Linked DNA regions of Homo sapiens. The protein of the gene in region 1 interacts with the protein of each later gene in a pairwise test. Each region holds a gene or a part of one and is shown in the gene's direction. Other genes may lie near its edges.

What was found. Proteins that work in one complex are often made in the same cells at the same time.
Region 2: the proteins of NEK8 (region 1) and RGS20 interact in binary tests that used the Homo sapiens proteins (3 or more experiments, as listed by UniProt).

The regions. Positions count from the first base shown.
Region 1 is NC_000017.11:28,731,769-28,735,517, forward strand, and holds part of NEK8 (serine/threonine-protein kinase Nek8), read left to right. Parts: intron 1-2,214; coding exon 2,215-2,420; intron 2,421-3,003; coding exon 3,004-3,236; intron 3,237-3,471; coding exon 3,472-3,603; intron 3,604-3,749. UniProt on the Homo sapiens protein: Required for renal tubular integrity. May regulate local cytoskeletal structure in kidney tubule epithelial cells. May regulate ciliary biogenesis through targeting of proteins to the cilia.
Region 2 is NC_000008.11:53,953,731-53,957,479, forward strand, and holds part of RGS20 (regulator of G-protein signaling 20), read left to right. Parts: intron 1-345; coding exon 346-580; intron 581-3,749. UniProt on the Homo sapiens protein: Inhibits signal transduction by increasing the GTPase activity of G protein alpha subunits thereby driving them into their inactive GDP-bound form.

The DNA.
Region 1 (3,749 bases):
AATTTTTTTGTATTTTTTAGTAGAGACGGGGTTTCACCATGTTAGCCAGTATGGTCTCGATCTGCTGACCTCGTGATCCGCCTGCCTCAGTCTCCCAAAGGCCTGGGATTACAGGCGTGAGCCACCGCGCCTGGCCCCAATTTTTTTTTTTTTTTTTTTTTTTTTTTTTTTTTTTTTTTTGAGACGGAGTCTTGCTCTATCTTCTAGGCTGGACTGCAGTGGCGCAATCTAGGCTCACTGCAAGCTCCGCCTCACGGGTTCACGCCATTCTACTGCCTCAGTCTCCCGAGTAGCTGGGACTACAGGCACCCACCAGCATGCCTAGCTAATTTTTTGTATTTTTAGTAGAGACGGGGTTTCATCGTGTTAGCCAGGATAGTAAGATTTTTAAATTGCATTCTGGGGCTGGGCATGGTGGCTCATGCCCATAATCCCAGCACTTTGGGAGGCCGAGGTGGGAGCATATCTTGAGGCCACGAGTTCAAGACCAACCTGGCCAACATAGTGAGACCCATATCTATAAAAAAAAGAAAAATAAATAAAAAATAAATGTCATTCTGGTTCATGTAGAATTTAGATTTGAGGGTGACAGGAGTGAAAGGGACCATTTTGGAGAGTTATACAGTATTTTAGGCGAGAAATTATGATGACTATAGGGCAAGGGCTGTAGAGAGGGCACAGAGAATTGGATGGATTTACAGTATTGCAGAGGTAGAAATAGGATTTGCTTGTGTGAAATGGAGGAAAGATTCTAGGGCGATTTTCTTTTTTCTTTTCTTTTTTTTTTTTTTTTTTTTTTTTGAGGTGGAGTCTCACTCTGTCGCCCAGGCTGGAGTGCAGTGGCGCCATCTCGGCTCACAGCAAGCTCCACCTCCCAGGTTCAGGCCATTCTGCTGCCTCAGCCTCCCGAGTAGCTGGGATTACAGGCGCCTGCCACCACACCCAGCTAATTTTTGTATTTTGGGTGGAGATGGGGTTTCACCATTTTGGCCAGGTTGTTCTCAAATTCCTGACCTCAAATGCTCCACCCACCTCGGCCTCCCAAAGTGTTAGTATTACAAGTGTGAGCCATTTCGCCCGGCCTAGGCTGATTTTCAAGTGTCTGTTTTTTTGTTGTTTTGTTTTGAGACCATCTCACTTGGTCACCCAGGCTGGAGTGCAGTGGCGCAATCATGGCTAACTGTATCTTCAATGTCCTAGGCTCAGGTGATCCTCCCACCTCATCCTCCAGAGCAGCTGGGACCACAGAGGCTTGCCACCATGCTCAGCTAATTTTTTTTTTTTTTTTTTTTTGCGAGAGTGGGTTTCACCATGTTGCTCAGGCTGGTCTTGAACGCCTGGACTCAAGTGATCTACCTGCCTTGGCCTCCCAAAGTGCTGAGATCACAGGCCTTAGCCACTTGGCCCTGCCTCAGGTTTCTGATTTTAGCAGTTTCTGATTTTAATAACTGGAGGATGATGGTAGCATTTACTGAGATGGAAGAGACTGAGCAAGGAAAGGTTTGGAGGCAGGAATCAAGAGTTTTATTTTGAATTTGTTAAAATTTAGGATGACTGTGAGCCATTCAAGTGGATATCTGAGTCTAGGGTTCAGAAGAGAAGCCTGATCTGGAGGTAAAAATTTGAGACTTAGATCAGCTTATAGTCCACTCATTCAACAAATACTTATTGACTGCCTATTGTGTGCTAAATATTGGGCTATGCACTGGGGTTATTGTGGTGAACAAGAATGTTGTAGTCCCTGCTTTTATGGAGACTAACCACAGAATTAAAATAAAATAATATGAATGGCTTCTATTCATTGAGCGTTTTCTTTGTGCTGGTCACTGCACTCAGTGCCTTACATGCATTTTCTCATTCCATCCTCTCAACAACCCTGGGAGGCCCATTTCATTTTCCAGACAATGATGTCACATAATGTATCAAACCAGATAACTAGTAAGAGGAGGCACCCAGATTTGAACCCAGGCAGTCTGTGGGAACTTAGAGATCAAGACTAACTTTACCTCACAGTGCCTGTGGTGAAACTGAAGTCCCACACAGCTTGTAATCAGTTCTCCCTGTTCCCAAGTTCAGTGTTCTGTGCGCTTGGTTAGATGACCTCTCAGTCTAGAACCCTCTTCCAAGAGACATCAGTCACTAGGCTGCACCGCCCTGCCTGATATGTGGCTGGAGGCTTAGCTGGTAACCTGTCCCTGTCCTCCGTATCCCTAGGATTGTGCACCTGTGCCTGCGAAAGGCTGACCAGAAGCTGGTGATCATCAAGCAGATTCCAGTGGAACAGATGACCAAGGAAGAGCGGCAGGCAGCCCAGAATGAGTGCCAGGTCCTCAAGCTGCTCAACCACCCCAATGTCATTGAGTACTACGAGAACTTCCTGGAAGACAAAGCCCTTATGATCGCCATGGAATATGCACCAGGTGGGCCAGCCTCCTTACAGTGGCCTGGCTGGAGGGCCTCTTACCTCTGGGACAGGCAGACACAGATCTCCTGGCTTCCCTCCTTGGAATGGGCATGGCCAAGGGTTAGAGTTCTGGTCCCAATTATCTGACCCCGGCTAGCCCCTTGTCCTCTCTGGTCCCAGTGCCCTGTTCCATACATAAAAGGAGAGGGGTTGTTGGCTGGGCACGGTGGCTCATGCCTGTAATCTCAGCACTTTGGGAGGCCAACGCCGAGGCGGGCGGATCATGAGGTCAGGAGATCGAGACCATCCTGTTTAACACGGGGAAACCCCGTCTCTACTAAAAATACAAAAAAAAAAAAAAATTAGCCGGGTGTGGTGGCAGGCACCTGTAGTCCCAGCTACTAAGGAGGCTGAGGCAGGAGAATGGCTTGAACCCGGGAGGGGGGGCTTGCAGCAGTGAGCTGAGATCATGCCACTGCACTCCAGCCTGGGCAACAGAGCGAGACTCCATCTCAAAAAAAAAAAACAACAACAACAATGGAGAGGGGTTGTCGTAGGTGTGAGAAAGCCTGGATCTTGATTAGTCCCTTGGGCCACAGGCGGCACTCTGGCTGAGTTCATCCAAAAGCGCTGTAATTCCCTGCTGGAGGAGGAGACCATCCTGCACTTCTTCGTGCAGATCCTGCTTGCACTGCATCATGTGCACACCCACCTCATCCTGCACCGAGACCTCAAGACCCAGAACATCCTGCTTGACAAACACCGCATGGTCGTCAAGATCGGTGATTTCGGCATCTCCAAGATCCTTAGCAGCAAGAGCAAGGCCTACACGGTGCCTGGGCATGGAAGGGACCTCCAGGGCACTAGAAGTCTTGAGGGCCAGGACCTAACCCTGCCTCCTCCCCTCCCCCTAAAAAACCCTTGGCCCTTTGGCCCCTGTTTGGGTGGTTCTGCAGGAGGAAGCCCCTTGGCTTGCTTTGAGAAGAAGCTGTCCCCAAATGGGCTTATGCACAGAGCCCCTGGTCTTCCCTCCCTGCAGGGCTGTGATCCCAGCTTCTATCCTGCAGGTGGTGGGTACCCCATGCTATATCTCCCCTGAGCTGTGTGAGGGCAAGCCCTACAACCAGAAGAGTGACATCTGGGCCCTGGGCTGTGTCCTCTACGAGCTGGCCAGCCTCAAGAGGGCTTTCGAGGCTGCGGTGAGTGTATGCACCCTCCAGGGGACAACTGAGAAATCTACTGCCTCGCCCAGCAGCCCTTGGCTCAAGCCACCTCAGGTTTCTCCTCTAGCTGAGTCATGTCTCTCCCTTATCAGATTACCCCAGGGGAGGGCTATGGGTGTCCC
Region 2 (3,749 bases), on another chromosome or scaffold:
GGAAGTTTTGGGTCAGATGGTTGCAGGATTTTTCTTTACATTTACAGTTTTTAAAATATTTCAAGATGTGCCCATTTGTAAACAAGCATGTTCTTAGCATTTATTCTAGCAACTTGGTTTGCAAGCCTTTTGGTATGCAATCCAGCAAAAAATTTGAAAGTATCATATTCATGTGTTTTTCCCAAAGGTTTGAGGAAATGCGAACAGTTCTTTCCCTTCCTAAAAGGGCCTAAATGCATATATTTTTCATTCTTGGAGGAGGAAAAGATATGTTCCTAATGATGAATTCCAATTAACTACCACTAACAGTTCCCTTTTGCCCCCTCTCTTTTGGTCTCCACGAAGCCCTGCTCCTACTCTGGAAGAAGTCAACGCCTGGGCTCAGTCATTTGACAAATTAATGGTCACTCCAGCAGGAAGGAATGCATTCCGTGAATTCCTCCGAACAGAATTCAGTGAGGAAAATATGCTCTTCTGGATGGCCTGTGAGGAACTGAAAAAGGAAGCTAATAAAAACATTATTGAAGAGAAAGCAAGGATAATCTATGAAGACTACATTTCTATACTTTCTCCTAAGGAGGTATGTGACCACGAGATGCCTTTTCCCAAGGCTGTTGGTAAAATTAACTTGGTGCAAAAGTAATTGCCATAGGCCGGGCACAGTGGCTCACGTCTGTAATCCCAGCACTTTGGGAGGCTGAGGCGGGCGGATCACCTGAGGTGAGGAGTTGGAGACCAGCCTGACCAACATGGTGAAACCCCGTCTCTACTAAAAATACAAAAATTAGCCTGGTGTGGTCATGGGCGCCTGTAATCCCAGCTACTTGGGAGGCTGAGGCAGGAGAATCGCTTGAACCTAGGAGGCAGAGGATGCAGTGAGCCGAGATTGTGCCATTGCACTCCAGCCTGGGTGACAACAGCAAAACTCCATCTCAAAAAACTAAACAAAAGTAATTGCCTTTTTTTTTTTTTTTTGAGATGGAGTCTCACTCTGTCGCCCAGGCTGGAGTGCAATGGTGCAATCTTGGCTCACTGCAACTTCTGCCTCCCGGGTTCAAGCAATTCTCCTGCCTCAGCCTCCAGAGTAGCTGGGATTATAGGTGCGCACCACCAGGCCTGGCTAATTTTTGTATTTTTAGTAGAGACAGGGTTTCACCATGTTGGCCAGGATGGTCTTGATCTCTTGACCTCGTGATCCACCTGCCTTAGCCTCCCAAAGTGCTGGGATTACAGGCGTGAGCCACCGTGCCCGGCCTCGCCATTACTTTTAACTTTTTCCAGAAAAATGCACAAAATTTTTCACCAATTTCAGAGGACATTTGGAGCCGCTCTGCAGGTCCACAGTCAAAGGGATCTGAATACCGTGAATGCGGGTGCAGCTGTTTTCTACATTTTGCAGTTGATGTTCTGGGTCAAGCTGAACATGACCAAACAGCTGCACCCACATTCACGGTTTTCAGATCACTTTGACTGTGGACTTGCAGAGGGCTCCAAGTGTCCTCTGAAATCTGTGAAAAATTTTGTGCATTTTTCTGGAAAAAGTATCCCCTGGAGTCTCCATTTGACACTGAACACTGTTTACAAATATTATACCCTAAGACGTTCCTTTAAATAAAATTATCTTGTTATTCTGAGAAAAATCTTGTATTTAGGTATCTTGATGTTATAGAGCAGCAGCATCACAGATGTGATACTGATGCTGAAAAGGTTTTCCCCAGGCTGGCTTTTTCATTCAAGAAATTATCAGATGAATGAGATTGGGCAAGTTTCCACCTGTCAGTGTTTCAGTTTCTTCAAATCTAAAATGTAGGAGGCCAGCCCTGGCACAGTGGCCAACTTCTGTAATCGCAGCATTTTGGCAGGCCGAGGCAGGTGGATCACCTGAGGTCAGGAGTTCGAGACCAGCCTGGCCAACATGGTGAAACCCCATCTCTACTAAAAATACAAAAAATTAGCCAGGTGTGGTAGCATTCATCTGTAATCCCAGCTACTCAGGAGACTGAGGCAGGAGAATCACTTCAACCCGGGAGGCGGAGGTTGCAGTGAGTAGAGATTGCGTCATTGCACTCCAGCCTGGGCAACAAGAGCAAAACTCCATTTCAAAAAAATAATAATAATAAAATAAAATTTAGGAGGTCAGATTGTTCTCAAATTGGGTGCCTTGTAGCTCTAATTATAAAACTATTAGTTATTTCCTACTATGTGCCGACAGGAATGTCAAGTTGAAGAAGCAGGGCCTCTCCTGTCATGGAGCTCCTGGAGATGTGGGCGGACAGACCAGGACCCCTGGCCACACTCTCAGCACTCACTGGGGCTCGGGGGTGAGCCATCCACAAAGGGGTGGGCGAGAATGAGAAAAATACTCAAGGAGGCTACAGATGGACCAAGGATAGTGAAAAGGAAATTTCCACAAACACAGCAGGATGGGGACATCCCAGGAGACAGGACCAGGCGAGCCCAGGGGAAGAGCATGAAGTTGTGTGATCACTGCAAGTATACACAGATTGTGCCAGAAAGGGAGGGTGCTTACCAAACTATTAGGGCTGGGGGCAGGCAGCAGGAGGAGACTTAGAGAAGGGGTAGTCGGAGAGCATGGAGAGGTTTGGGCATCATGGCGAAGTGTCTGGATTTTTATCTTGGGAAGCCCTTGGATTTTAGCCTGTTTATATCATCAAATTTTGATTTTTGAAAGACCAGTAGGGCTGCAGAGTGAATTTGGAGAAGACCAGGGGCAGAAGACGTTAGAAAACTAATTCAGGAGTCCAAAGGGACATGGTGAGGGCCTAGCTAGGCCAGCTGAAGACGCTAGAGAGGAAGAGTCGGATTTGAGGCAAACCCCACCGTCTCAAATGACTCCCATATGTCTGGTGTAGGCAGACCAGGTGGTGGGGTCGTTGGCTTACTTAATTTTGCGTCGTTACGTTTTGCTTTCTTAAGTTTGCGTTGTTAAATTGGTAATATTCAGTTGACATGTTTGAATACTGAGTCCAAAAAGTTATTTTCATTTTGAATTAATAAGGAGCAAGATAATTTTTGTCCTTTAATTTATGGCTTCCACATATTTTTATTTTGTCATGATTTTTTTTAAGGCAAGGTTTTTCATCAATCTTTTAAAGTATTATACAACCAAAAACAGGCCGGGCACAGTGGCTCACGCCTGTAATCCCAGCACTATGGGAGGCCGAAGCAGGCAGATCACCTTGTCTAGGAAGAGCCAAACATCAGAGCAATCAACATCTCCTATGGGCTTAGTGAAATCCAAGCACTTTGTCATTAAATCACAAAAAACCTAAGACATTACCATCATCATCATCCCCACTTCAGGGGAAGAGCTCACTAGGACACAGAGTTTACCTTGCCTGAGGCCCCACAGCTATACAGTGACAGGGATGGATTTTGTTTTGTTTTGTTTTTGAGATGGAGTCTCGCTCTGTTGCCCAGGCTGGAGTGCAGTGGCATGGTCTCGGCTCACTGCAACCTCTGCTTCCCAGGTTCAAGCGATTCTCCTGCCTCGGCCTCCCGAGTAGCTGGGATTACAGGCACCTGCCACCATGCCCAGCTAGTATTTTTTATTTTTAGTAGAGATGGGGTTTTGCCATGTTGGCCAGGCTGGTTTCGAACTCCACAGCGCTGGGATTACAGGCGTGAGCCACCATACCCAGGCAGGGCTGGAATTTAAACACAGGCATTGTCTGCCCTCAGGCCCTGTGATTGGAACCTTCCAGGGTTTTGAGTCAACTTCCACTTCA